Regions from separate parts of the Homo sapiens genome. Here all the other regions are linked to region 1. Evidence: fine-mapped expression QTL. A gene starts in region 1. Each other region holds a variant in brackets. All regions are shown on one strand. Distances are between the middles of the regions. Region 1 holds the start of SEC31B (SEC31 homolog B, COPII component). Region 2 has its middle 38 kb from the start of OLMALINC. Region 3 overlaps WNT8B (Wnt family member 8B). Region 4 overlaps WNT8B (Wnt family member 8B). Region 5 overlaps SEC31B (SEC31 homolog B, COPII component).

Evidence for each region. PIP is the estimated chance that this variant, and not a neighbour inherited with it, causes the effect.
Region 2: its variant is the best candidate, but not a certain one, in a credible set for the expression of SEC31B in blood mononuclear cells (TOPMed, PIP 0.67).
Region 3: its variant is the best candidate, but not a certain one, in a credible set for the expression of SEC31B in blood mononuclear cells (TOPMed, PIP 0.63).
Region 4: its variant is the best candidate, but not a certain one, in a credible set for the expression of SEC31B in tibial artery (GTEx, PIP 0.63).
Region 5: its variant is the best candidate, but not a certain one, in a credible set for the expression of SEC31B in whole blood (TOPMed, PIP 0.77).

The regions. Positions count from the first base shown.
Region 1 is chr10:100,516,559-100,522,741 of GRCh38, reverse strand. SEC31B (SEC31 homolog B, COPII component) reads left to right here and starts at 2,881. Exons shown (of 26, transcript NM_015490.4): 1 at 2,881-2,960; 2 at 5,745-5,868. The coding sequence starts at 5,790.
Region 2 is chr10:100,408,204-100,414,386 of GRCh38, reverse strand. No RefSeq gene overlaps it. Among named protein-coding and RNA genes, the nearest start is that of OLMALINC, 38 kb to the right of the region's middle. The variant C/T (reference allele first, on the strand shown) is at 2,665.
Region 3 is chr10:100,482,354-100,488,463 of GRCh38, reverse strand. WNT8B (Wnt family member 8B) reads right to left here. Exons shown (of 6, transcript NM_003393.4): 6 at 4,720-6,110. The coding sequence ends at 5,648. SEC31B (SEC31 homolog B, COPII component) reads left to right here. Exons shown (of 26, transcript NM_015490.4): 25 at 366-437; 26 at 669-1,817. The coding sequence ends at 848. Among named protein-coding and RNA genes, the nearest start is that of WNT8B, 22 kb to the right of the region's middle. RefSeq lists enhancers at 1,952-2,727, 1,887-3,379, 2,728-3,504, 5,525-6,110. The variant G/A (reference allele first, on the strand shown) is at 3,310.
Region 4 is chr10:100,475,088-100,480,087 of GRCh38, reverse strand. It overlaps WNT8B (Wnt family member 8B), which reads right to left. Exons shown (of 6, transcript NM_003393.4): 2 at 1,003-1,036; 3 at 76-214. Among named protein-coding and RNA genes, the nearest start is that of WNT8B, 15 kb to the right of the region's middle. The variant T/C (reference allele first, on the strand shown) is at 2,646.
Region 5 is chr10:100,489,772-100,495,954 of GRCh38, reverse strand. SEC31B (SEC31 homolog B, COPII component) reads left to right here. Exons shown (of 26, transcript NM_015490.4): 19 at 409-570; 20 at 5,072-5,249; 21 at 5,633-5,947. Among named protein-coding and RNA genes, the nearest start is that of SEC31B, 27 kb to the left of the region's middle. The variant C/TC (reference allele first, on the strand shown) is at 3,747.

The DNA.
Region 1 (6,183 bases):
CTGCGACTGCCTCTGATCTTATTTCCGTTATAAGAATATTCCTTATTCCAAAGCAGCTTCTGAATCATAGCTTCTTAATAAGTTGACATTACCTGTATTTATGAATTGGAGGACAGTCAGTGAGTTACTACTGAACATGTTCATAGCTTTGATTACTTTTGATGACTCATCCACACTCCTATAACAGTCTTAGAGAAAAACTATGTTTTTGAGAGTCTATCATTCATCTGTTTTTTGTTTTATTTAGAGATAGGATCTTCCTCTGTTCCCCAGGTGGAAGTGCAGTAGCACAATCATAGCTCTCTGTAGCCTCAAACCCCTGGGCTCAAGGGATCCTCCTTACTCAACCTCCCTAGTAGCTAGGATTACTGGGATGTACGAACCTAAGTTTCTTATTTTTTGTTGAGGTGGGATCTTGCTATGTTGCCCAGGCTGGCTCAAACTCCTGGCCTCAAGCAATCCTGCCTCAGCTTCCTAAAGCACTGGGAATACAGGCAGGAGCCACTGTACCCAGCCCTCATGTCTATTTTTAAGTGAACCAACCCATATTCCTTTGGGGACATATTCTTAAGTTACAGTATATTGCCGGAAAACCTGTCCCATAGAAAAGCATACATTTTATGTGACCAAAAGAAGCAAGTTCATTCAAATTAGATGTGGAGTCTTAGTTGTGCAGGCAGTGAGAGACCTTTTGTGAGGTCAGGGAGTGGATACTTGTGGAATGCTATTCTTTGAAGGTCCCCACTGGCTTTTTATCTGTCTTCATTCTCTATAGCATTTGATAATCATTTCCTTAACAAACACCTGTGTGTCTAATATGTATCAAACACTGATAAGCCCTGGAGATATAAAACTGAGCAAGACAAAGTAATCACCTTCAAATATTACATAGGAGACCAGCAGTTATAATACAAAGTGAAAATAATTCTTTATCATTATTACTATTGAGACAGGGTCTCACGCTGTTGCCCAGGCTGCAGTGTAGTGGTGTGATCACAGCTCACTGCAGCCTCTACCTCCCAGGCCCAAGCGGTCCTCTCACTGTAGCCTCCCAAGCAGCTGGGACCACAGGGATGCACCAACACACCTGGCTAATTTTTGTATTTTTTGTAGAGACAGGGTTTCACCATGTTGCCCAGGCTGGTCTTAAACTTGTGGGCTCAAGCAATCCACCTGCCTTGGTCTCCCAAAGTGTTGGGATTATGGGTGTGGGCCACTATGCCAGGCCAAAAAGAATTTTTTTTTTTTTTTTTTGAGACATGGTCTCACTCTGTCACCCAGGCTGGAGTGCAGTGGCATGATCTCAGCTCACTGCAACCTCTGCCTCCCAGGTTCAAGTGATTCTCATGCCTCAGCCTCCCGAGTAGCTGGGATTACAGGCACATGCCACCACGCCCAGCCAATTTTTTCGGTATTTTTTGGTAGAGATGTAGTTTCACCATATTGGTCAGGCTGGTCTTGAACTCCTGACCTCGAGTGATCTGCCCGCCTCAGCCTCCCAAAGTGCTAGGATTACAGGCATGAGCCACTGCTCCCAGCAAGAATTCTTAAGAGGTGTGAGTTGAGAAAGTGCACTTTTAATTTGGCTTAATCATGTCCTACCCGAAACTGTGACTTAAGCTTCTGGTTCAAATTTCTTTAGGAGTATTCCATCAGTAACTCTTCTGCCTCCTTCTCTCAGGTTTAGTTTTTAACCCTGTTTACTTTTCCTCAGGCTTCATTCCCTGTTGTGCCAGCTAAGAAGTTCAGGAAATACTTGAGTACTTAGTAGGTAGGAAGCGTGGGCTAGGCACAGATAATGCACTGAATTACCTTCTGTCTAACTTCAAAATTGCCAGATCCACATGGAAGGGAACTGGAGTCGTGTCACAATGAGTTGGGCTCCATCATGATAACTGGCCCCCCATCTTTGGAGGTGTATCAGGCAGGAATACAGAGAATTCATGCGTTAAGCATAAGTTTCTAAGATTTAAAGCTGCCTACAGAATTTTTTTTTTTTTTTTGAGATGGAGTCTCTGTCACCCAGGCTGGAGTGCAGTGGCGTGATCTCAGCTCACTGCAACCTCCACCTCCCGGGTTCAAGCTATTCTCATGCCTCAGCCTCGTGAGTAGCTGGGACTACAGGCCTGCACCACCATGCCCGGCTAATTTTTATATTTTTGGTAGCGACGGAGTTTCACCATGTTGGCCAGGCTGGTCTCGAACTCCTGACCTTTGGTGATATGCCCACCTTGGCCTCCCAAAGTGCTGGGATTACAGGTGTGAGCCACTGCACCCGACCTGTCTACAGAACATTTTTATTTGGAAGTGGCACAATTTCTTCAACATAAAAAATACATTATCGGCTGGAATATCACCTGTGTTCTTGCAGCTCCAGAGGATAACACCCCTCCTATGTTCCTCAAATATTTCAGGAAGCCCCTGGCCCTGTAGTCTCACCCTCCATACACTTATAGCCCTTAATTCAACCAAGTTTTGGGCACCAGTTTCTGCTGGGCTGCAGTGCAACACTCACTGCCATTTACAGCCTCGATTGCTTTTTACGTTTTCAACTAAATGGATTCCACTGAGGGCTCCTGGGGCCAGGGCCGGGTCTTCTCCCGCTTCAATACATAGATAATGAGTTAGTATTTTCCCTTTTCAGAGACTGGCCCTAGAGCCTGGCTCAAACTGAATAGACCAGAACTTACTGGTCCAGATCTGACCCGCTGCGCAATCACAGGGTAGGTGAGGGAGGCCCGGTTAAAAGCTATAATCCTGTTTGGAAACGTTCTCCGTGGGTCTGTCAGTGTCTCGGGCTCGGCGCCCGCGGAGCGTGTTTCCGACGGTGCCCTGCCGGGGTCCGCGCCGCTTTGGTCCTCCGCAGCCGCCGTCCACAGCGCCCGGCTCCGCGCGAGAGCCCTGCCAGAGGAGCGGCTCCGGCCGCCGCGCCTGACCCTTGTCCGGGGTCTTCCGCACAGGTTGGTTCGCCCCGCCGGTCTGGGGTCCCTGGTAGCAGAGATTGCGCTGGGGACCCGGAGCACTGCTCCTTTCTCGGCAGAGCGCGGAGGGGAGCCCGCTTGCTGCGGAGCCCCCGGCCCGCGCCTGCCCTGCCCGCGGGTCCGGGCCTCGGGGGCCTCCACTACGTCTACCCTTGAATTGGATCCGGCTCTACTGTCCCTGCCGCACGGGAACCCCCAGCCGGATGAGGGTCTCCCTGTTCACTGCTGCCTTGCGCCTTCCCATCCGCCTTGGTCCTGACCTGGCCCAGCCGAGGCCGTCCGGTGTCGCTGCGTTTGGGCTGGGCGGGAAGGTCTGTCATTGCTGACCCTGGCGCGCCGCGCTTCGGCGACAGCGGGAAAGAGGCTGTGCTGACCGTCCTCCCTAGGGACTGGACTGCCAAGGGTAGCTGGTGCCCTCCTGCACGGCAGGTCTGTCGAGCATTTCATTGGTCATCTCCCCCTCACGCCCCCATGGCCAATCTGACCCCAGCGGGGGCCCTTTTTTTGTGAATAGATGCCTCTTAACAATGTGAATTAAGAGCCCATTTTCCCAGTTCCTAGACTGTCAGCGATTAAAACACTTTCTAGGGTTTACTTGCGACTAGTACAGTGGTTAGAAATACGGGCTCTTGATGCTGATGGGGGTTCACATCCCGGCCTAGCCAGTTGTCATCTCTAGAAAATGGGGATAATCATAGTACTTACCTGATAAGACCACTGAGAGAATTAACTGAGATATGCACATCAAATGCACAGCTGCTTATCGCAGCTCCTATTTTTGTTGTTAGGGAATCTTTTCCCAGAAACATTAAAATGGCTGTGACCAGCAGGTGGCACTGGTGACTGTATAGTAGAGTGTTGAGCTGGTCACAGAATACGTGATAGTAGCCACAAGTGTTTAAAGGTGCTTTGGAAATCTTGGCTTAATGGGCAGGCTTAAACTTTCTTCACGCTAGAAAGTACCTTAGAGATTAAGTAATACTATCTCCTGTTTTTGTAGGTGAGACTGATCTGACTATAGCTTACTCAAGCAGGTCACAGTAGGTCCCAAGCTTTCTCCTCAAGTTCAGTGTAATTTTTAAAAATCATTTCTACCTGTTTGCTAGCCTGTTGGGATGGGACCTTGAATATACATTGGAATTAGATCAGAAACCACAGAGTTAAAATGGATGTCCACATTCGAGCTTTTACCATATGCCAGACATTCGTTTGGAAACTAGTTACAACATGGTGAACAAAAGCCGACACAGTGTCAGCTCTCATGGAGCTTGCATATTAGTGGAAGAGACTGACAATGTCAATATAAATAAATATGTAATTATAAATTACTAGGAAGAAAAAAACTGAGGCTTTTTGTGATTGGGTAGTTCACTTATTTGGGGAAGTAAGCTGAGCCCAGAAAGATATAAGGAGCCAGTCATGTCGAAAGTGAAGGGAAGAGCATTCAAAGTATAGGGAACAGCATTTGTAAAGGCTCTAAGGAAGGAAAATGTCAGGAAATTAAAGGCTAGTGTGGCTGAAGCACAATGAATGAGAAAAGTATTAAAAGATGAAGTTGAAGTGGTAGGCTGGAGCCTTTGGGCAGGGCTCAAAGAAGTTTGAATTTTATTCTGTGTGTGATAGAAATCATTGAAAGATTTTAAGCATGGAATGCCAAAATCATTTTTTATTTTAGAAGTTCACTCCTGCTGCTGTGTAAAGAACGAATTGGGTAATGGCTTGAGTAGAAAGGGGATAGCTAGTTGGGAGGTTGTTGGAGTACTCCAGGTGAGAGATGATACAATCAAAAAGGCTGTTGGCAGCGAAAATAGAGAAAAGTAGACAGATTGAGATATATTTTGGAGGTTAAATCAAGGAGACTAAATGATGGATTAGAAGAGAATGAGGGAGAAGGAGGGATCAAGAGGGATTTTCAGGCTTCTGGGTTGAGCAATTGGGTGGATAGTGGAACCATTTACCAAGATGAAAAAAACTGGAGGAAGAACAGAAGAGATTGTGACTTTGCTCCTTTCTGAAAAAAACAAATAAAAAAAGACCATAAAAGATGGTAGAATAGAGAACTCCATTTTAGACAGACTAAAATGGGAGTTCCCTCCCCCATTAAGTATCTACTATATCCAAGTGAAATATTTGATTGGAAATTGCGTATAAGCAGCTGATCACTTGAGGTCAGGAGTTCGAGACCAGCCTGGCCAACACGGTAAAACTACGTCTCTACTAAAAATACAAAAATTAGCCAGGCATGGTGGCACATGCCTGTTATCCCAGCCACTCGGGAGGCTGAGGCAGGAGAATCACTTGAACCCAGGAGGCAGGGGTTGCAGTGAGCTGAGATCGTGTCACTGCACTCCAGCCTGGGTGACAGAGCAAGACTTGGTCTAAAAAACGAAAAGAAATTGCATATAAGAACTTGGAGCTTAGAGGAGAGATTTGTGATGGTGATATAAATTTGGGGATCATCAGCATATGGGTGCTATTTAAAGCCAAGGAAATGGACAAACATCACTGAGAGATTGTCTGGTTTGATGGTTATCACCACTGGACCTGTGGTAGCCATTGTGGTTGAGTATCATTTGAGGTTTAAAGCATTACATTTCAGTAATTGGGTGAATGAACTATCTTTAGATCTGCAGATGGTCATGTATTTGTCACTCTGTGTTGCCCTGAAATGCCCTATCTTGTGATGGAGAAAGACAAACAAGAACTCTTGTCCGCAGATGCTCCCTGGATCTGGCTGTTAAGTTTGCTGGTTTCTATTTTCAGTGGGCTGAGGGCCATGTCAGTTTTCTGCCACCTACAGGATAGACCATGAAGCTGAAGGAACTTGAGCGGCCAGCTGTCCAGGCATGGAGCCCAGCCAGCCAATACCCTTTGTATCTGGCCACAGGTATGGTGACACTGTGAATTAGGATCCACTGGGAGTACATAAGTTGAGGGGAAACTTAGTATCTAGAATTATTTATTGAACATCAGAGAAAGCTCTCAGATCATAGAAAGATAGGGTGGCTCACAGCATAAGCAAGGAGATATTAGGTGTTTTGGGTACCTGAGGGCTGCCTAGGACTATGGCTCAAGGTTAGGTACGTCTTTTTTTTTTTTTTTTTTTTTTTTTGAGACAGAGTCTCACTCTGTCGCTCAGGCTGGAGTGCAGTGGCGCGATCTTGGCTCACTGCAAGCTCCGCCTCCTGGGTTCATGCCATTC
Region 2 (6,183 bases), 110 kb after region 1:
AAATTAGTTTATAGACCCAGAGTCCAGGACTTTTGCTTTTTTCTTTCTTGCTTTTGTTTTTAAAAAATGTTTTATGGGCTGGGTGCGGTGGCTCACACCTATAATCCCAGCAGTTTGGGAGGCCGAGGCAGGAGGATCATGAGATCAAGAGATTGAGACCATCCTGGCCAATGTGGTGAAACCTCATCTCTACTAAAAATAAAAAAATAGCTGGGCGTGGTGGCGTGTGCCTGTAGTCCCAGGTACTCGAGAGGCTGAGACAGGAGAATCGCTTGAACCTGGGAGGCAGAGGTTGCAGTGAGCCGAGATCACGCCACTGCACTCCATCCTGGGCAACAAAAGCAAGACTCTATCTCAAAAAAAAAAAAAAAGTTTTATGTATTTAGAGATGGGTTCTCTCTATGTTGCCCAGGCTGGTCTTGAATTCCTGTGCTCAAGTGATCCTCCTGCCTCAGTCCTTCAAAGTGCTGGTATTATAGGTGTGACCTACCATGCCTGGCCAGGACTTTTGCTTTCTTCCCATTTCTTTTTTTGTTTTGTTTTGGTTTGTTTTGCTTTTTTGAGATGGAGTTTACTCATCGCCTAGGCTGGGGTGCAATGGCACGATCTCACTGTAACCTCTGCCTCCTGGGTTCAAGTGATTCTCATACCTCAGCCTCCCGAGTAGCTGGGGTTACAGGCACGTGCCACCACGCCCCAAAAAAGAATTTTTTTTGTATTTTTAGTAGAGACAGGGTTTCACCATGTTGTCCAGGCTGGTCTTGAACTCCTGACCTCAGGTCTTTTCTTCCCTGCCTTTTCTTCCCATTTCTAAGAGGGTCCCACCATGTGCTCTTAAGCAAGTTCTGTAGCTTCTTCATGACTCTTTTTTTCTCAATCGTTTACCACACAGAGCTGACACTTCTCTTACTATCCAAAGGAAATGGCTATCTGCATAAACTGAATAACGAAGGAAAAGTACAAAATGTCATGTGAATATGTTTTATTCATGAGAAACAGTATGAAAGCTGTGTACAGTGAAGAAAGAACTATTGGTCACAGAGGGTATTTTTTTCCAGCCACACCCACATACTGACAACAATCTCAGCCAGTTGTGCCCTATCTGATTACAAAGAGGTAACACAAAAAATTCTGGCTGCGCAGAGTCCTACTTCATATAAAAGGGACAATTTTGGAGGCAAAACTCATGGGTAGCAGAGCTCAAGGACAGTCACAAAGACAAGGGTCACTTCCAGTTCTAAGATTCCAGGATTTTAGTTTTTTGAGTTTGGGAGACAGGATGCTCAGCTGAGCAGGAGAAGCATCCTGCCTTCATCAGTTAGTGTTAAAATTGTGGCACAGCTCAGTCTGCCTGAGGTTTATTTTGATACCTTATCTTCATCTGGGTTTAAATCAGTTGTGGTCACATAGATTGCAAATATAGGATTTTTAGGCCGGACGCAGTGGCTCATGTCTGTAATCCCAACACTTTGAGAGGTTGAGGCGGGCGGATCACTTGAGGTCAGGAGTTTGAGACCAGCCTGGCCAACATAGTGAAACCCTGTCTCTACTAAAAATACAAACAAACCTGGCATGGTGGCAGGTGCCTGTAATCCCAGCTACTCAGGAGGCTGAGGCATGAGAGTCACTTGAACCCAGGAGGCGGAGGTTGCAGTAAGCCGAGGTTGCACCACTGCACTCCAGCCTGGGCGACAGAGCGAGATGGTCTGAAAAAAAACAAGTATAGGATTTTTAAAAGTGCATTAGCTTTGTTTGGATGAATACAAAAGGTTGGAAAGTATGCCTTTTACTGACGTCACAAAAAGCTTGACCAATATATTTTCCTTTTATTGAATTATTCATTTAATTACCAGGCTGGGGAGAAAGAAATAGAGATTTCTTTATTATTATTATTATTATTATACTTTAAGTTCTAGGGTACATGTGCATAACATGCAGGTTTGTTACATATGTATACATGTGCCATGTTGGTGTGCTGCACCCATTAACTCGTCATTTACATTAGGTATTTCTCCTAATGCTATCCCTCCCCCCTCCCCCCACCCCACAACAGGCCCGGGTGTGTGATGTTCCCTTTCCTGTGTCCATGTGTTCTCATTGTTCAATTCCCACCTATGAGTGAGAACATGTGGTGTTTGGTTTTTTGTCCTTGCAATAGTTTGCTGAGAATAACGGTTTCCAGCTTCATCCATGTCCCTACAAAGGACATGAACTCATGATTTTTTATGGCTGCATAATATTCCATGGTGTATATGTGCCACATTTTCTTAGTCCAATCTATCATTGTTGGACATTTGGGTTGGTTCCAAGTCTTTGCTATTGTGAATAGTGCTGCAATAAACATACGTGTGCGTGTGTCTTTATAGCAGCATGATTTATAATCCTTTGGGTATATACCCAGTAATGGGATGGCTGAGTCGAATGGCATTTCTAGTTCTAGATCCCTGAGGAATTGCCACACTGACTTCCACAATGGTTGAACTAGTTTACAGTCCCACCAACAGTGTAGAAGTGTTCCTATTTCTCCACATCCTCTCCAGCACCTGTTGTTTCCTGACTTTTTAATGATCACCATTCTAACTGGTGTGAGATGGTATCTCATTGTGGTTTTGATTTGCATTTCTCTGATGGCCAGTGATGATGAGCATTTTGTCATGTGTCTTT[C/T]GGCTGTGTAAATGTCTTCTTTTGAGAAGTGTCTGTTCATATCCTTCGCCCACTTGTTGATGGGGTTTTTTGTTTTTTTCTTGTAAATTTGTTTGAGTTCATTGTAGATTCTGGATATTAGCCCTTTGTCACATGAGTAGATTGCAAAAATTTTCTCCCATTCTGTAGGTTGCCTGTTCACTCTGATGGTAGTTTCTTTTGGTGTGCAGAAGCTCTTGAGTTTAATTAGATCCCATTTGTCAATTTTGGCTTTTGTTGCCATTGCTTTTGGTGTTTTAGACATGAAGTCCTTGCCCATGCCTTTTTCCTAAATAGTATTGCCTAGGTTTTCTTCTAGGGTTTTTATGGTTTTAGGTCTAACATTTAAGTCTTTAATCCATCTTCAATTAATTTTTGTATAAGATGTAAGGAAAGGATCCAGTTTCAGCTTTCTACATATGGCTAGCCAGTTTTCCCAGCACCATTTATTAAATAGGGAATCCTTTCCCCATTTCTTGTTTTTGTCAGGTTTGTCAAAGATCACATGGTTATAGATATGTGGCATTATTGCTGAGGGCTCTGTTCTGTTCCATTGATCTGTATCTCTGTTTTGGTACCAGTACCATGCTGTTTTGGTACCAGTACCATGCTGTTTTGGTTACTGTAGCCTTGTAGTATAGTTTGAAGTCAGGTAGCATGATGCCTCCAGCTTTGTGCTTTTGGCTTAGGATTGACTTGGTAATCCGGCCCCTTTTTTGGTTCCATATGAACTTTAAAGTAGTTTTTTCCAATTCTGTGAAGAAAGTCATGGTAGCTTGATGGGGATGGCATTGAATCTATAAGTTACCTTGGGCAGTATGGCCATTTTCACAATATTGATTCTTCCTACTCATGAGCATGGAATTTTCTTCCATTTGTTTGTATCCTCTTTTATGTCATTGAGCAGTGGTTTGTAGTTCTCCTTGAAGAGGTCCTTCACTTCCCTTGTAAGTTGGGTTCCTAGGTATTTTATTCTCTTTGAAGCAGTTGTGAATGGGAGTTCACTCATGATTTGGCTCTCTGTTTGTCTGTTATTGGCGTATAGGAATGCTTGTGATTTTCGCACATTGATTTTGTATCCTGAGACTTTGCTGAAGTTGCCTATCAGCTTAAGGAGATTTTGGGCTGAGACAATGGGGTTTTCTAGATATACAATCATGTCATCTGCAAACAGGGACAATTTGACTTCCTCTTTTCCTAATTGAATACCCTTTATTTCCTTCTCCTGCCTGATTGCCCTGGCCAGAACTTCCAACACTATGTTGACTAGGAGTGGTGAGAGAGGGCATCCCTGTCTTGTGCCAGATTTCAAAAGGAATGCTTCCAGTTTTTCTCCATTCAGTATGATATTGGCTGTGGGTTTGTCATAGATAGCTCTTATTATTTTGAGATACGTCCCATCAATACCTAATTTATTGAGAGTTTTTAGCATGAAGCGTTGTTGAATTTTGTCAAAGGTCTTCTGCATCTATTGAGATAATCATGTAGTTTTTGTCGTTGGTTCTGTTTATATGATGGATTATATTTATTGATTTGCGTATCTTGAACCAGCCTTGCATCCCAGGGATGAAGCCCACTTGATCATGGTGGATAAGCTTTTTGATGTGCTGCTGGATTTGGTTTGCCAGTATTTTGTTGAGGATTTTTGCATCGATGTTCATCAGGGATATTGGTCTAAAATTCTCTTTTTTTGTTGTGTCTCTGCCAGGCTTTGGTATCAGGATGATGCTGGCCTCATAAAATGAGTTAGGGAGGATTCCCTCTTTTTCTATTGATTGGAATAGTTTCAGAAGGAATGGTACCAGCTCCTCCTTGTATCTCTGGTAGAATTTGGCTGTGAATCCATCTGGTCCTGGACTCTTTTTGGTTGGTAAGTTATTAATTATTGCCTCAATTTCAGAGCCTGTTATTGGTCTATTCAGAGATTCAACTTCTTCCTGGTTTAGTCTTGGGAGGGTGTATGTGTCGAGGAATTTATCCATTTCTTCTAGATTTTCTAGTTTATTTGCATAGAGGTGTTTATAGTATTCTCTGATGGTAGTTTGTATTTCTGTGGGATCGGTGGTGATATCCCCTCTATCATTTTTTTATTGCGTCTATTTGATTCTTCTCTCTTTTCTTCTTTATTAGTCTTGCTAGTGGTCTATCAATTTTGTTGATCTTTTCAAAAAACCAGCTCCTGGACTCATTGATTTTTTGAAGGGTTTTTTGTGTCTCTATTTCCTTCAGTTCTGCTCTGATCTTAGTTATTTGTTGCCTTCTGCCAGCTTTTGAATGTGTTTGCTCTTGCTTCTCTAGTTCTTTTAATTGTGATGTTAGGGTGTCAATTTTAGATCTTTCCTGCTTTCTCTTGTGGGCATTTAGTGCTATAAATTTCCCTCTACACACTGCTTTGAATGTGTCCCAGAGATTCTGGTATGTTGTGTCTTTGTTCTCATTGGTTTCAAATAACATCTTTATTTCTGCCTTCATTTTGTTATATACCCAGTAGTCATTCAGGAGCAGGTTGTTCAGTTTCCATGTACTTGAGCGGTTTTGAGTGAGTTTCTTAATCCTGAGTTCTAGTTTGATTGCACTGTGGTCTGAGAGACAGTTTGTTATAATTTCTGTTCTTTTACATTTGCTGAGGAGTGCTTTACTTCCAACTATGTGGTCAGTTTTGGAATAGGTGTGGTGTGGTGCTGAAAAGAATGTATATTCTGTTGATTTGGGGTGGAGAGTTCTGTAGATGTCTATTAGGTATGCTTGGTGCAGAGCTGAGTTCAATTCCTGGATATCCTTGTTAACTTTCTGTCTCGTTGATCTGTCTAATGTTGACAGTGGGGTGTTAAAGTCTCCCATTATTATTGTGTGGGAGTCTAAGTCTCTTTGTAGGTCTCTAAGGACTTGCTTTATGAATCTGGGTGCTCCTGTGTTGGGTGCATATATGTTTAGGATAGTTAGCTCTTCTTGTTGAATTGATCCCTTTACCATTATGTAATGGCCTTCTTTGTCTCTTTTGATCTTTGTTGGTTTAAAGTCTGCTTTGTCAGAGACTGGGATTGCAACCCCTGCCTTTTTTTGTTTTCCATTTGCTTGGTAGATCTTCCTCCATCCCTTTATTTTGAGCCTATGTGTGTCTCTGCACGTGAGATGGGTTTCCTGAATACAGCACACTGATGAGTCTTGACTCTTTATTCAATTTGCCAGTCTGTGTCTTTTAATTGGGGCATTTAGCCCATTTACATTTAAGGTTAATATTATTATGTGTGAATTTGATCCTGTCATTATGATGTTAGCTGGTTATTTTGCTCGTTAGTTGATGCAGTTTCTTCCTAGCCTCAATGGTCTTTACCATTTGACATGTTTTTGCAGTGGCTGGTACCGGTTGTTCCTTTCCATGTTTAGTGCTTCATTCAGGAGCTCTTTTAGGGCAGGCCTGGTGGTGACAAAATCTCTCAGCATTTGCTTGTCTGTAAAGGATTTTATTTCTCCTTCACTTATGAAGCTTAGTTTGGCTGG
Region 3 (6,110 bases), 34 kb after region 1:
TTTTTGAGATGGAGTCTCGCTTTGTCGCCCAGGCTGGAGTGCAGTGGCGCGATCTCGGCTCACTGCAAGCTCTGCCTCCCGGGTTCAAGCCATTCTCCCGCCTCAGCCTCCCGAGTAGCTGGGACTACAGGTGCCCACCTCCATACCCGGCTAATTTTTTGTATTTTTAATGGAGACGGGGTTTCACCGTGTCAGCCAGGATGGTCTCCATCTCCTGACCTCATGATCCACCCGCCTTGGCCTCCCAAGGTGCTGGGATTACAGGCGTGAGCCACCATGCCCGGCCTAATATGCTGTGATTCTTTATGGCCCTGTGTGGTGTTAGACTTAGGGGCTGGGGTTGGAATCCATTTCTTTCCCTGCAGAAGACAAAAAGGAAGCTGGAAGAGGCAGCCCAGCGTCTGGAGTATCTATATGAGAAGCTCTGTGAGGGGACAGTAAGTACAGCTAGCTGTGCTCCCACTGCCTCCTACACTTCCACCATCACCATGGCCAAAGGAAGCCCAGTGTCTTTTCTTCCCATAGGTGTCACTGACCTGGGTTCCCCACAAAATACGTGCATCTTGCCTGGACTGGGCCCCAGAACTTAAGTCTTCCCTTATCCCTTCCATGCTGCCAGGGTAGGAGCTGGGTTGGGCTCACTAACCTAAGGGTCATTCCCTCCACAGCTCTCACCTCATGTCGTGGCTGGGCTCCATGAGGTTGCCCGATGTGTGGATGCAGGAAGCTTTGAGCAGGGCCTTGCAGTGCATGCCCAGGTGGCGGGCTGTAGCAGCTTCAGCGAGGTGTCCAGCTTCATGCCTATCCTGAAGGCTGTCCTCATCATCGCTCATAAGCTGCTGGTCTAAACCAGGCAGCCTCTCTTGCTAGGAGGCCACTTCTGCTGTTACATAACTCCTCCCTGCAGAAGAGGGGACTTCTGCAACAGATTCTGTTTCTTTTTCCCGACTCTTTTCCTTGCTGCCAGGTATGTGATGCTGTAGGCTTGGCTCCAAACCAGCTGAGTGCCTGCTTTTTACTCCTTTATGTCTGGCCTTCTAGGATCTGTCCAAGACACTCTCAGGCCTGGAGGCAGGGCATAGAATCAGTTCTTCACTCTCCCTAATACTACACTCTGTAAGGACCTGGGGCAGGATATCTTCTCCCCCAGGGATCTTCTATTTAAGTGGCTTCTGAGAGGGTGAACAGGATTGTTACTTTTAAGCCTACCTCTGCTGTGACCCATCATGTGGGTCTTTTGTTTCTCCCTTCTGTGGTTTATGAGCCTGCCCTTACCTTTTCCCTGCCTCTGACTTGGTATTTCCAGGTCCGTATTTCTCTGTAGCCCAGGGTCTGGGGTAGAGCTGACTGCTGTTCACCCTTTGAACAACTCATGGACGTGAGGGATGGGTGCTGAGCAGAACCAAGAGAGGAAACTTTGGCGCTGTTAAAATGGAATTTCTCATCTGCCGGCATTATTAAGGGTGGGCTAGGTTGGATGGAAGGTGAAAGGGATGAACTGCCTTTTGCTGGAAGCTGTCTTAGGCTGTGAGACAGGAGCAGGGGAACCACAGCCTATGGGGAACTGCCCTTGACTCCACCTATGTTGGAGCCTTAGCCCAAGGCCATTCCTTCTGTGATGATAAAGCCCAGTTCTGGAATTGGAGCCATATTAAGGAATGATTCTCTTCCAGCGCTGCTCCTCAAGGGTTGGGGGTCCTTCTCCCTCGCAGCCACCACATGTCTCAGGGCTACCTTCTCCGATTGGATTTGCATTTGTGGCACTGTCTTTGATGCAGTGATGTACTTAATGGTGCAATAAAGCTGCTTCGATTTGGTTTCCTCTGTCATCTCCCAGTCATTGCCTCCTCTGGGTTCTATTTTGCCATTACCTTTCTAGTCCTCTTTATTCTTGCTTCCTGCACCCTAGTAAGGCAGGGGAGAGGCTTAGGGAGAGATAAATCAAGAAAGTTAAAGGAAGGTGTCCATTCCCACTGAATTAGGTTCTCTCCTTGCAGCATTTGTGGTCACTCTGCTGGGTGTGTTGAGGGTGGGGGGATTGTCTCCCTTCATCCGTGCCTGGTGTTCAGTTCCAGGGTTTTCCCTACCCCACTTCAGGGCTGAGCTCAGCTATACAAAGGGACTGGGTGTGAAGCCAGGGGATGCTAGCCCTAATCCTGTTGTAGATCCCATCATGTCTGCGGGCTAGATGTGTGTGTGTTTGGGAGGGAGGGATTGTTAGGCAGTATTTGTTTGTAAAGCCACTTGCTCTTCAGATAATACTTGCACTAACTTCTATTGATGAAGCAGTGTGAGCCCTAGCAAAGTCCTTTCCCAAAGTGTCTTTGAAGCCAAGAGCCCATTGAAGGGAAGAAAGGCCGGGAGAGGGGATTAGTTTGTTCAGCAGCTGTGAATTTCAGTGGGAGGTTGATGAACTCCGAAGTCTTTGTTTAAATTAAAGTGGGGGAGAAAAAAGCCGCTGCTGGAGCGAGAGCCCCACTTGGGGCCCTGAACTAACACAAGGAGAAGTCTGAGCTGCAGGGAGCTGTGTACTGACTGCGAAGACTTTTCCCAAACACTTTCGGAAAAGGTGTTGTGAGAAGACAAGGGGGCGGAGTGGCGGATTAGCATGTGAAATGAAGTTTTCATTGACTCCAGTGGGGGTAGAAGGCTATTTTAATGGCATTTTGTTCTCCTATTTTCTCTTCTTGAGCTCTTTAGAGATATTGTTTTGCTAAGACAGGCTTTCTTCCCCCTTCTTTCCAGTCTGAGGATTGCCTCTATGGGAGCCAACATAAATATTTCTCCTCCAGGAATGCGGGTTAATTAAAAGGAAATGAATGAGTGGAAGCATCCAATCCAGACCTACAATAGGCGAGTGCCCTGGCCTGCCCTCCCCTCCCACCACCGCCAGCACCACCAGCGCCGAAGACGACCCCGTCTCTGTCTTTGCCCTAACCTGCTGCTAAGGCCAGTTGAGGCTGCGATTCTTTTCAAAAAGAAAAAGCTCTGCCTGTGTTTAGGCTCACAGGCCAGGGACAGGAAGGAGACAGTGTTTTGCCCACCCCAACCAATGTCCTTGTCACTTCTCAGGGCCTCCCTCTGTTTCTGTCTTCTGGCTGAGACAGATGGGCTCCTGAAGAGCACACAAGAGGTGGAAGGGGCCTGTGCTCTGCACTCTCCCCACAGTAACTTACTAGTTGGGGGAAGAAGCCAGTCATCTTTCTCAGCATCAGTTTAAATCTGTAACACAAAAGGTTTGACTGGCTGACCTCAAAGATGTCTTCCCAAGCACCAGTTCTGGAGTTGTCTACTTTGTAAAGGGACCAC[G/A]GCCCTGGCAATTGAGTGTAAGATGAGAACTTAAACTCCGTGATGCAGCAATGGTGGTTGTTCACCACTATCTCTACTCTGGTGTTTGTTGAATGAACAAATGAACAAGTGGATATTGCAAAAGGAAGGGAAAAGCAATACAGATCCAAGGCATCTCAGTCATGTTTTCTTGGTAGAACTGGAATGAATCTGGTATCCATTTGGGGGTATAAAACAATAACCTATGAAATAATGTTCTGGCGGCATGACGTATTTAGAGTGCTGACCTGGAGTTACCAAATATGAAGCACAATAGTTCTGCTTTTATGCTAAGAGACCTGGAGAATGTAGCTTTACTTTACAACATTGTGCTTTTAAATTTTCTAGCTGCCTTGCCAAACTTTCTTCGTGTACATTATAAAGTAATTCTGCAAAGTGGGACAGGTAGGTTAGTATATGCTGCTTCTTGATTAAGGAGAAAAGGTGAGTTGGGAGATTCAGGAGGTTCAGATAAAAGCAGAGGGAAGGCGTGAAGGGCCTTTTGCTGAGAAAGCTGGAAATGAAGCACTAAGAACACCTGAAAGGAAGTGTATCCCCGGTCAGGAAGGGGAAACTCTCTCCTCAGTAAGTGTTGGTAAGACCAGAAGGTGTGTGGGTGAGGCCAAGGGTTTGGGATCTGACCTGGCCATTGCCTTAGTTTGGAATACGGGAACCCTTGACTCTTACAGGTGAACCCCTAGAGTCTTGGCTTTTGTTGCCTGGAGCCAGCCACACTGCTTTTCCTACTCTGGGAGAGGAAGGTTGAGGTCGTCTAGCATCTGACCAGTTCTGCTCTAGAAGAGCTGCCCAGCCCCAGACCTGGGACTGTCCTAGGGCAAGGAAGCTGGCTGGGAAGCCCCTTGGGCTACAGAGGGTCTGTCAGGGATTGGTTCTTCCCTCCCCAAGGTCTTGCTCTGTTTCATAAACAAGTCCCTGCTGTACTCTCTGAGAATAAAACCAGAAGACTCAAGTACCACAAGCAGCAAGCTCATGGCTCTTGAGTGAATGTATTAGAAGATTTAAATAGATGATTTACTAATCCTTGGCAGCTTAGCCTCAATCCAGATAACTGCTTGGGCCACCAGGGAAGTGAGGCTTTAGGGAGGATGGTATCCTGCCAAGATGGGAGGGAGGAGAGAGCCTACAGGTTGTATCTGTTACCACAGCCCACCCGAATATCCTCAAGAATAAGTGCAGTACCTAGAAAAAGAGCACATATCACAATGACTGCAATAAATTAAGGTTCAAGGTGCTGAACTTCCTACTAAGCAACAGTTTCATTGCAGGAAGTTTACTCATTGAAGGAAGATATCCAGTGCTCTGAATCCTGCCTGTTTGAGAACCAGGTTAGTGAGAAGGAAGGGTCTCAGTTTCTCCTTCTTAGGACCTGCCTCTAGAGGTGCAGACCAGGATCTGAAGAGGAAAGTGGCTTTATTTACCTCAGTCTTGGCTCAGAGGAACAAAGATCCTTTGGAGAAGAAGAGGTAAAGTTGGTTGCTAGGAGGAAGTAGGTCAGGAGAAGGGAGAAGTTACCTTTAAAGGGTAGGAAATGACTGTAATCTGCCCTTAACGTATTTCCTAGACCTTCGGGGTATGTATCTGGAGTCCCTCGGGTTATTGTCTAGGAAAGTCATTGCCCCACTAGTAAAGTCCATTCATGATATGATACCATAGGGATGAGTAGCACCCTTGGTGTTCAAGTTAGCACTCCAGAGCTCCCTCTTCCATCTTCAACCTCTGCCTCTAGGAACCAACCCCAAAGACATGCTTTTCCGGGGCCAGTTTCCTCAGTTTTTCTGGGAAAGGAAAGGGAGAAGAGGAGAGAAAGCATTCAAGATTCCTGGGGAATCTGGCTCAGCAGGTAGCAGGGGAGGAGCTGTGCAGAAGAGAGGTGCAGCAGTGGGTGAGCCCTGGTAGCAGACAGTGGGCAAAAGGGCAAAGCTTTGACTTTACCTGGGTCCTGCGTGTCTGAGAAGGGTTCTTCCAGCGCCTAAGGCTTGATAGGCTAGGTCAGACATTAGGGCTGCTAGGAGAGGGGAGGAGGAACACCTGTTCTCCTAATCCAAGGAAGATCAGTAACTCAAAGCCTGAGTTCTCAGACCTAGGTGTGGCTGCGAGGATTCAGACAGAGCTCTAGGAGAGCACAGAGGAATTGGGGAAACAGGCTGGAAAGTGGCAAGCTTTGGAGAAATTGCAGTCTCTCCCTCTCAGGATCCCTAGGTCTGGGAGAGCGGGTTCCCCATTCCCTAGGTTCCACAATTACCGGGGTCTCTAAAGGAAGCCAAGAACCAGTGGGAAAAGGAGGGGGCAGAGGAAACCCTTAGGGTTTTCTCCCGGGTTTGTGCGCAGCGCCCCCCCGCGGCCGCTCTGCGCGGCTACAGAAGTACTTGGTGACCCTCCGGCGGCACTGCTCGCAGCGGACTGCGCAGCACCAGTGGAACTTGCAGTTGCAGCTGGACACGGTCTCGGCCCGGCGCTCCTCCACCGCCAGCCCGCAGTCCCCGCAGAGCCGGCGGCAGCTGCGGCGTTCCCAGCGACCCAGGGCCCGCCCGCGCCTTAGGCACTCTCGGCCTTCGGTGCCCAGCAGCCCTAGCGTTTTGTTCTCCAGGCAGTAGTCCGGGGAGTCCTCCAGGTGCACCAGCTCCCGGGTAGAGATGGAGCGAAAGGTGTCGGCGATGGCGCCGCGGCCGGCCGCGCTGTTGCCAGCACCCTGCAGCAGGTCCACCTTGAGTGCTGCGTGGTACTTCTCCTTCAGGTGCGCGCCCACCTCGCGGAACTCGGGC
Region 4 (5,000 bases), 42 kb after region 1:
GAGGCAAGGGGCTATCCCTGGGGCTCTAACCTGTGACCAGAGGGTCCAGGGAGCTGTGGCTGAGGTTTTTCTTACCACTGCGAAGCCCACCATGGCTGGACAGCTGCAGGGCTCTCTCAGGGCAGTTCCAGCGGTCCCAGGCAAACTGATACTTGCATTCTTCAATACCACTCTGGGCACCAGCTGCCACACTGCTGGAGTAAATCAGGTAAGCCTGTAGGGACATAGGGGTAAAAATTCAGACTGAACTTAGGAGGCATTTACCCTAAACTGACCAAACAGCCCTCTTCCTGCTCACTCTCCCATCCCTCCAAAATAATGGAGTAAGCCTTTAAATATGCTGTCTCATTTGACATCACAAATAACTTGTGAAATAGGCACTATATTATAGATTAGGAAACTGAGGCCCAGGGAGTGAGCTAAAGTAATTTCCCCAAAGTCCCAGAGCTAGCAAATGGCAGAACTAGAAATGAAACTCAGTTTTATCAGACTCTAGTCCCTATTATCCTTTATTCACCTTTCTTCACTATACTATCCTGTCTCTCCAAAATGAGCCCAAATCACCTAATTCATGAAATTTAAGGAGTTCTCATCACATGACCATCTTAGAAAACAACATTTTGGAACTGAAAATGCCCATGAATGTAAAGATCATGTAGTACAATTCCAGCATTTTAAACATGGGAAACTGCATCCCACCACGGGGCACTGAGAAGGATGTGTGACTTTGCAGCCTGACACCTATAAAAGGCTGTTGACTTTTATGGCTCTGGAAATTCTAGCCATAAATTCAGTGCTCCTGCGTTCTTATCTTGGCGCTGACAGTGGTTTGCTATGTGGTTTTAGATGTGTCCCTAACACCCTCTGGGTCTCAATCTTTCTATCTGTAATGTATACAGCATAATAAAATATGTGGATATAATGAAAAATCTGCATTTATCATCTTTAGTCAACAGGCTAAGATTAGTGAAATCCATATCAATTAATGGAATTTGTTCTTACCTTTGGACCAGTCATCAGGAAATTGTTCACCGACCTATAAGGGAAAAAAAAAACAAAAACAGAATATAATGCAGAGACACCAACTTGTTTCTGCTTCCAAGAGTGGTAAGAATTACTTCAGCACATGTCATTAATAGGAAGAAAGGGAAACTAGTTTTACCCAGGAAACACTGTGCATAACAAACCTACTAAAGATGATTTACAGCCAGGTGGGGTGGCTCATGCCTGTATTCCCAGCACTTTGGGAGGCTGAAGCAGGTGGATCACTTGAGGTCGGGAGTTTGAGACCAGCATGGCCAAACATAGTGAAACCCCGTCTCTGCTAAAAATACAAAAATTAGCGGGGCATGGTGGCAGGCGCCTGTAGTCCCAGCTACTCAGGAGGCTGAGGCATGAGAATCACTTGAACCTGGGAGGTGGAGGTTGCAGTGAGCCGAGATTGCGCCACTGCACTCCAGCCTGGGCGGCAGAGCAAAATTCTGTTTCAAAACAAAAAAAAAAAAACACACACACACATAAAACTTAGTAGAAAAAACATGAATAAAAGTAGTATCATTTCCTTGCATTGTTAAAGCCAGGTAAAATTTCCAGTACCATATACCTGATAGTGATGGTTGCTGATTATTCTGCCATGAAGTGGGGGAGAGAACTAGCATTAACTCCTGACTATGTTCCTTATGCTCTACTCTCGGTATTTTACATGTTGATCTTGTTAAATCCTTACTGTCTCAGGCATTATTATCTCTATTTTGCAGACAGGAAATCTGAGACTCCAGAAAAGTTAAACGTGTGTTCAGGCTCACCCAGCTAATAAGTGAGTGAAGCAGGATTTGAATCCACATTCATCTGACTCCGTGGGACGTTAGAAGGATACTTCTCTAATTAGGAAGAGGTAAACAAACAGTGGAATATCTCTCTAGGGATTGAGTCATAATAAAACTCTAAAAATAAGTAATGCGATTTGGAAAAATGGTTTGGCTGCCCCTTTTAAAACTAAAAATGGGCTGGGCACAGTGGCTCACGCCCATAATCCCAGCACTTTGGGAGGCTGAGGCAGGTGGATCACCTGAATCCAGGAGTTCAAGACCAGCCTAGGCATCATCATGGCAAAACCCCGTCTCTACTAAAAAAAAAAAAAAAAAATAGCTAGGCATGGTGGTATGCGCCTGTAATGCCAGCTACTCAGGTGGCTGAGGCACAAGAATCGCTTGAACCTGGGAGGCAGAGGCTGCAATGAGCTGAGATTGCACCACTGCACTCCAGCCTGAGCAACAGAGTGATATTCTGTCCCAAAAAAAAAACAAAAAAAAACTAAAAATGAACTTGTCATATGACTTAGCAATTGCACTCTTGGGCATTTATCCCAGAGAAATAAAGACTTACTTTCACTCAGAAATTTGTACCTGGATGCTCATAGCCACTTTATTAATAATAGTCAAAAATTGGAAACTACCCAATGTCCTTCAAAGGGTAGTTTAAAAAACTGTGGCCGGGTGCGGTGGCTCACGCCTGTAATCCTAGCACTTTGGGAGGCCAAGGCAGGCAGATCATGAGGTCAGGAGATCGAGACCATCCTGGCTAACATGGTGAAACCCTGTCTCTACTAAAAATACAAAAAATTAGCCAGGCGTGGTGGTGGGCAC[T/C]TGTAGTTCCAGCTACTCAGGAGGCTAAGGCAGGAGAATGGCGTGAACCTGGGAATGGAGCTTGCAGTGAGCCAAGATCGCGCCACTGCACTCCAGCCTGGGTAACAGACCGAGACTCCAACTCAAAAATAAAATAAAATAAATAAATAAATGAATAAAAAATAAAAAACTGTGGTACATTCATACCATGGAATATTACTCAGCAATAAAAAGGAATGATACGTTGATACATGCAACAACTTGGATGAACCTCAAGGAAGTTACGGAGTGATTAAAGTCAGTCTCAGAAGGATACATACTGCATGATTCTATTTACATAACAATAGTGAAATAATAAAAATTATATAATTATAGAGCTGGAGGACAGATCAGTGGTTGCCAAGGATTTGGGATGGGGGATGGATGTGGCTGTAAAGAGTAACATGAGAAAGTCTTGGGGGAATGGCCAAATGTCTTTACTGTGGTTATACAAGGCTACACATGACAAAATTGCATAAAGCCACATACATGAGTACATGTACACACAAGTGCATGTAAAAATGGTGAAGTCTGAATAAGCTTCATGGATATCGTACTAACGTTGTAAGATGTTCACACTGGGGGAGGTTGGGGCAAGTGTACATGGGACTTCCCTGTACGTTTCTTCCCTGTACATGTCTTGCAACTCCATAATTATCTAAAAATAAAAAGTTAAATATATATGTACATATACACATGATCTGCAGGGCTAAAGACTTGGAGAATGACTTCAGTATAGGCATTTGAAAATCAGAATCTATTATCTATTATCTTTGTTTTTCCATTATAATGTGAGAAAGTAATACGGGAATCATTATGTATTGTTCCATGCTGGTGTACCCCTGCAATTCTGAAGGCCAATAAGATGCTGAACATCACCAGAAAGGGGATTGGAAATGAAATAGACCAAGAAAGTTTCTTGTCAGGCCAAAAGAGCTTGGCTGACTTTCTTCATAAAAAACACATACAACACCAAAAATGTGAGTAGTTTTTGAAAACCAGTATTAACAAACTAAGAGGCTGCCATATGAGATGAAAAAGATTCTAAACGAGTTGTAATAGAATTTTAGAAAATCAAAAATACTATGAAGTCTATCAAAACTAAGGCCTATTTTTTTTTTTAGACGGAGTCTCACTCTGTCACCCAAGCTAGAGTGGTGCCATCTCGGCTTACTGCAACCTCTGCCTCCCAGGTTCACACCATTCTCCTGCCTCAGCCTCCCGAGTAGCTGGGACTACAGGCACCTGCCACCATGCCCAGCTAATTTTTTTTTGATTTTTTTTTTTTTGTATTTTTAGTAGAGATGGGGTTTCACTGTGTTTGCCAGGATGGTCTCGATCTCCTGACCTCGTGATCTGCCCTCCTCGGCCTCCCAAAGTGCTGGGATTACAGGCGTGAGCCACCGCGCCCAGCCACCAAGGCCTACTTTTTAAAGCTTGGTAGGCAACCTTAATTCAACTGAAAAGAAGCACTGCTTGATCAGGTGTAGTAGCACCAGCAAAACACAAAAATACAATTCAGAATGACTTAAATGAATTCACAATTTCCAAAGCCATTATAGGTTTGGACATGAATTTCTGATCCTTAAAGACATGTCAGAGGAGTCAGCCAGGCCCCTTTGCTTTGGGGAAAGGGGCCTGAGCTTGTTCCCACTCAGAAAGGCACTTTTTATGTTAGGAATAACATTCAAAGATTTTGGACATTACCAAGCCTGACAGAGCTAGTTCCCATTTTCCATAAGACAGAAATTATCAGGAAAGAAAACAAAACAACAAAGCAAATTGAGTGACAAAGAAAATGCTTTGCCATAGCTGGGGTGAAGAGTCTTCCTGTGAAAGGAGTCTAAGCCGGAACTACAGGGAGTAATAGACAGAGATTCTAGAGAATTCTTTCCTGGAAGATCCTACAATATGCAAAGATTTGTATGATATCCAGGTCAAGCCCAACTGATCAATGAATGAGACTTAATTGAGCACCTGTCATGGAACAACACTATAGGCCTTATTTGGACAACATTCCTATAAAGTGACTTGTGTTTTTGTTTTTTTTGTTGTTTGTTTTGTTTTGTTTTTGGAGACAGAGTCTCACTGTATCTTGCTCAGGCTTGAGTACAGTGGTGTGATGTCGGCTCACTGCAGACTCCACCTCCCGGGACTTGTGTTTTTCTGTTTGTTTGTTTTTTGAGACGGAGTCTTGCTCTGTCTTGCCCAGATTGGAGTGCAGTGGCATGATCTCGGCTCACTGCAGCCTCCGCCTCCCGAGTTCAAGCAATTCTCCTGTCTCAGCCTCCTGAGTAGCTGGGATTACAGGCGTGTGCCACCACACCCAGCTAATTT
Region 5 (6,183 bases), 27 kb after region 1:
ACCAGCAGATATAGAGCATTCTAAGCAGAAAGAATAGCAAGGAGGGAGGCATGCAAGTGTTTGGCAGGGATTCAGGAACCTTGAGTCATCTCTAAGGGGGCTAGAGTATAGAGCGGGGGTGTCCAAGGGTCAGAATACAGTCGTGGGTGCTTAGTTTCTGTTTCTGGTTGGGCCAGTAAAGCCCCTTCCTCATCCCGGTTTTCCACTTATCACTAGAGACAAACCAAAAACCATGGCTTCAGGCTGCTAAAAACCTAAAACAAAACAAAACAGAACAGAACAACAACAACAACAAAATAACACAGGTTGGACAAGCTTGGTGTAGAGGGTCAGCTGAAATTTGACTGCTACCTGGGGCCTTGATTGTTTTAATTTCTTGACACAGCTCTTCCTCATTAAAACTTATAGCCACCAGTTCAGCAGCTAAGAGATCGGCTTTTTCATGCTCAAGGTTCTGCTGTCTTGGGCCAACAGTCTCCCCCTTTCCCCTTCCCCCGGATTGTTGTGGGAGCTACCCTCCACTCTAAAGAGACATCATCTTACAGATTGGGATCCCAGCCTTCTCACCAGGTAAGACCTCGTTTGTTCATTCATTTGTTCATTCAATAATACGTGCCAAGCATGGTTCTGGGCACTTGGAATATATTGTGAACAAAACTGATGAAAATTCCCAACTTCCATAGAACATAGATTCAGTTCTTTTTATAATAAATAACTGTTTATTGAACTACTAGGCTCTTAGGACATAAAGGTGCAAAAATTGTGATACTTGCCCTCAAGTAGCTCATAGTGTAGTCGAAAGATAGATATGTAAAAAATAGCTACAGTAGGCCTGGCGTGGTGGCTCACGCCTGTAATCCCAGCACTTTGGGAGGCCAAAGCGGGCAGATCATGAGGTTTGGAGTTCGAGACCATCCTAGCCAACATGGTGAAACCCCATCTCTACTGAAAATACAAAATAATGATCTGGGCATGGTGGCACGTGCCTGTAGTCCCAGCTACTCGGGAGGCTGAGGCAGGAGTATCACTTGAACCTGGGAGGTGGAGGTTGAAGTGAGCCCAGATCATACCACTGCACTCCAGCCTGGCAACGGAGCGAGACTCCGTCTCAAAAAAAAAAAAAAAAAAATAGCTACAGTAAAATTCATAAATACCATGATTGGGGTATGGCAAGGGGCTATAAGATCACACAGATGAAAGTAGTTTACTCTGTATGGTGAGGTTGTGGGGGCAGTCCAGGGAGTGTTTCAGAACAAGTCGGATGTTTGATCAGAGTTTCAAAGATTAAAAGGTTTTAGGCAAAGGGATGAGCAAGTGAAGACTGTTTCAGGCACAGAGAATAGCATGTACAAAGGCACTGAAGCAAGAGTAAGCCGAAGCCTTTTGAGAATTACTATTATTTAATTGGGGCTGCAACACAGGTGTTTGTGGCTGTGAAGTTAGATGAAGCTGGAACAACAGGTAGGAGTTAGATCACTAAGGACCTAGCATTCTGTGCTAAAGAACTTAAACTTGACAGGGAGGAGCTATTGAACAGTTTTAGGAAGAGTGACATAATTAGCTGTATGTTAGGAAGGGCCAGGCTGGAGGGAGTTAGGCTATAGTAAGGGATGATGAAGACATGAAATAACTAAAGCTAGCCAGTGAGGTTGGATTTGAAATACTTAGTACTTAGTAGATAGAACTGACAGAATTGCTGATAGTTTGGAGAGGTGTGTGTGTGGTTGGGGGTACTGAGGGAGAGGAAAGAGGTTCTGGCCAAAGTGCCCGGGGGGATTGGATACTGTTAAGATGTGAGGCCAGAAGCTTGCTAGAGCTGCCGGAGAACAGAATCCAGGGAGATTTGGATACAGTTACCAGGCAGAAGCTCTGATGGCTCATCTTGTCCCACCTTCAATCCCCACCCTAATTCCTTTTCTTTTTTTCCCTCCCTTTCCTCCCTCCCTTTCTTCCCTCCCTTGTCTCCCCTTTTCCCCTTCCCCTCCTCTCCTCTCTCTCTCCCTCTCCCCGTCTCTTTTCATTTAAAAATAACCATAGATTCACAGGAGGTGGCAAAGAAATGTACTGGGATGTCTCCTGCATCCCAACAACACCCCGCCCCGTGTCGGCATCTCACACAACCACAGTACGCTATCAAAACCAAGAAATTGCCATTAGTACAATCCATGGATTCAGATTTCAGATTCAGTCTCCACCAGTTTTACATATTGTTAGGTGTGTGTTTATGTGTGTTTATGCAGTTTTGTCACATTGTGGTGTGTAACCACCACCAAAATCAAGATACTCAATTTTACCATCACCACAAGACTCTCTTGTGTTACCTCTTTTATAGCTGCACTTATTCTGCCTCCCTCATCCTTGGCTTCACCAATATGTTCTCCAGCTCTATCATTGTTATTTAACGATTGTTACTTAAATAGAATCATGGCAATATGTATCCTTTTGAGATTGGCTTTTCTCCCTTAGCATAACTTCTTTGAGGTTCATTCAAGTTGTTCTGTGTACCAGTAGTTCACTCATTCTTATTGCAGAGTAGTATTCCATGGTGTGAATGTACCATGGTTTTAATTTTTTTTTTTTTTGAGATGGAGTCTTGCTTTGTTGCCCAGGCTGGAGTGCAGTGGCGCGATCTTGGCTCACTGCAAGCTCTGCCTCCCAGGTTCACGCCATTCTCCTGCCTCAGCCTCCCGAGTAGCTTGTACTACAGGCGCCCGCCACCACGCCCGGATAATTTTTTGTATTTTTAGTGGAGATGGGGTTTCACCATGTTAGCCAGGATGGTCTTGATCTCCCGACCTCGTGATCCGCCCGCCTCGGCCTCCCAAAGCGCTGGGATTATAGGCATGAGCCACCGCGCCCGGCCCCAGTTTTAATTTTTTTAGCCATTCAAACTTTGAAGGACATTCGGATAGTTTCCAATTTGGGGTATTATGAGTAAAGCTGCTATGAGTATTCAAATACAAGTTCCTAACTGACATCTTTACTAGGTTCAGTCTTTCAGTCCATGAATGTGGCATGTTTCTCCATCAGCGTTTTATAATTTTTGTCACACCAATCCTGTACATATTTTGTCCAATTCATACTTAAGTATTTAATTTTTTATATCACCTGTCAGCTCATGCCTACTAAGTATTTAATTTTTTTCTTCAGCAGTTTAAAATCAAATTTCTTGGTTTCCACTTGTTCATTGTGAGTATATAGAAATGCAGTTGATTTTTATGTGTTGATCTGGTTATATCCTGTGACTTTCCTGAATAGTTATAGAAGTTTTTTGTGGATTCCATGGGGTTTTCTAATAGACAGTCATGCTGTCTACAAATCTGCAAATAGATAGTTTTCTTTCTTTTCAATCTATATGCATTTAATTTCTTTCTTATGCCTTATTGTAGTGACTAGGACTTCCAGTCTCTGTTAAATAAGAATAGTGAACATAAGCCAGGCGCTGTGGCTCATACCTGTAATCCCAGCACTTTGGGAAACTGAGGTGGGTGGATCACCTAAGGTCAGGAGTTGAGACCAGCCTGGCCAACATGGTGAGACCCCATCTCTACTAAAAATATAAAATTAACCGGGCATGGTGGCGCATGCCTGTAATCCCAGCTACTCAGGAGGCAAGGCTGGAGAGTCGCTTGAACCCGGGAGGTGGAGGTTGCAGTGAGCTGAGATTGTGCCATTGCACTCCAGCCTGGGCACCAAGAGCGAAACTCTGTCTCAAAAAAAATAAATAAATAGTGAACATGAATGTT[C/TC]TTGCCTTGTTTCCAGTCTTAGAGGAAAAACATTCAATATTTCAGCATTAAGCATGATGTTAGCTTTAGGTTTTTCACAGATGCTCTTTATGAGACCAAGGACATTTCCCTCTATTCCTTGTGTCTTAATCCATTTTGTGCCACTATAACAGAATACCACAGACTGGGAAATTTATAAAGAACAGAAATTTATTTCTTATGGTTCTGGAGTCCAAGATCAAGGCACCAGCAGGTATGGTTCCAGCAGGTACGGTTCCACCCTCTAGTTGCAAGATGGTGCCTTGCTGCTGTGTTCTCACATGGCAGATAGCAGATGTGCAAGAGAAAGCAAACCCACTCCTGCAAGTCATTTTTGTAGTGGCATTAATCCATTAATGAGGGCAGAGCCCTCATGACCTAAACACTTACAAAAAGTCCCACTTTCCCAACACTGTTGCATTGAGGATTCAGTTTTCAACACATGACTTTGGGGAGCATATTCAGACCATAACACCTTGTGTACTAGATCATGAATCGGTGTTGAATTTTGTCAAATGTTTTTTCTGCATCATTTCTGTCATCATGTTATTTTCATTCTTTAGTTTGTTGGTATAGGGGATTAAATTGATTGGTTTTTAAATATCTTGGATCAGCTTTGTATGACCTGGAATCAATCCCACTTTCTTGTGGAATATTATTTTTTATATACATTATTTGATTTGCTAAAATTTTGTTGAGGATTTTTGTGTCTAAGTTCATGAGAAATATTGATGTGTAGTTTTATTTTCTGCTATCTTTTTCTGTTGCTGGCATCAGGGTAATACTGGCCTCATGAAATTAGTTAGGAAGTGTTCCTTCTATTTTCTGGAAGAGATTACATAAACTTTGCATTAATTCTTTGACTGGTGAAATTCTCCAGTGAAACCATCTAGGCCTGGAGATTTCTTTTTTGGGAGCTTTTAAATTACAAACTCAATTTCTTTAATGGTTATAGGACTATCCAGATCTTCTTTCATTGTGACTGAGTTTTGGTAGTTTATGGTTCTTGAGGAATGGGTCCATTTCTGATAAGTTGTCAGATTTATGAATGTAAAGTTTTCTGTAGTATTCGTTTATATTTTTAATGGCTTCAGGGTCTGTTGTAATAGTCCCTGTTTCATCTCTGATGATGATTTATATCTTCTTGCTTTTTATCTTTATCAGTTTTTAGATGTTTATCAATTTTATTGATTTTTTTCCTCAAAGAACTAGTTTTTGTTTCATTAATTTTCCCTATTATTTTTCTGTTTTCTATTATTTACCTTTCTCTTTCCTTTCCAAGAGCTGATGTTTTTTTCTCTTCATAGGTCCCAACTCCATCTCCAAGGCCAAGGGTTTTCACCCCTCAGTCATCACCAGCGATGCCCTTGGCACCTTCCCATCCTAGCCCTTATCAGGGTCCCAGGACACAGAATATAAGTGACTACAGGGCACCTGGGCCCCAGGCCATCCAGCCTTTGCCTTTGAGCCCTGGGGTAAGGCCTGGTGAGTGAGTCACTGAAGATCTATCTGGGCAGAGCACAGAGGTCTCAGGAAAGCAATTGGCATGGCCAGCATGGATTTGGGAAGCTGTATGTCTGTCTAGTGAGAGGAGCTTGGAAGTTGAAGTCTGAATTCCTAATGCTATCACTGGCTTCGTACCTTTGGCAATATACCAAAGTGTTGTGTTGCTTATTTCAATGCTATGGGATTGTTTTGAAGGTCAAATAAGGAATATAGTTAAAAGTATTTTGTAAATTATAGATTTCCATATACATGTATTAATCATTTATTATTTTTTTATTGCAATCCTGTTTCTCCCTGATATGCTCTGAGTTGCTCCTGAAATGAAGTTTAGTGACAAATGACCTATTTCTGTTCTGCTTCAGCTTCATCTCAGCCACAGCTATTAGGAGGGCAAAGGGTGCAAGTTCCTAACCCGGTGGGATTCCCTGGGACATGGCCTCTTCCTGGTTCCCCTCTACCCATGGCATGCCCAGGCATCATGCGACCTGGCTCTACCTCCCTGCCTGAGACTCCTAGACTGTTCCCTCTGCTTCCTCTGAGACCACTAGGTCCCGGCCGCATGGTCTCCCACACCCCAGCCCCTCCTGCAAGCTTCCCTGTGCCATACCTTCCAGGGGACCCAGGTGCCCCATGCTCTAGTGTCCTCCCAACCACTGGCATCTTGACTCCTCACCCAGGTCAGTCTTCCTTCCATGGATCCCTCTTCTGGGTTATTGCCTCCCCTGCTCCTCTCACTACTTTGGGAGTCTTTCCTCAAGTCAGAGGGCTAGGGCCCTGTTGGGTGGAGGGTGGCTGGGAGTGTAGATGGTCTGCAGAGGGAGGTATGGTGAACTCCAACTCAAAGAATGCTTCCAGCCTTCAGATAAAAAACTTCCAGTGTTTTTCACTATGCGCCGAAAAACCTCTATCTTTT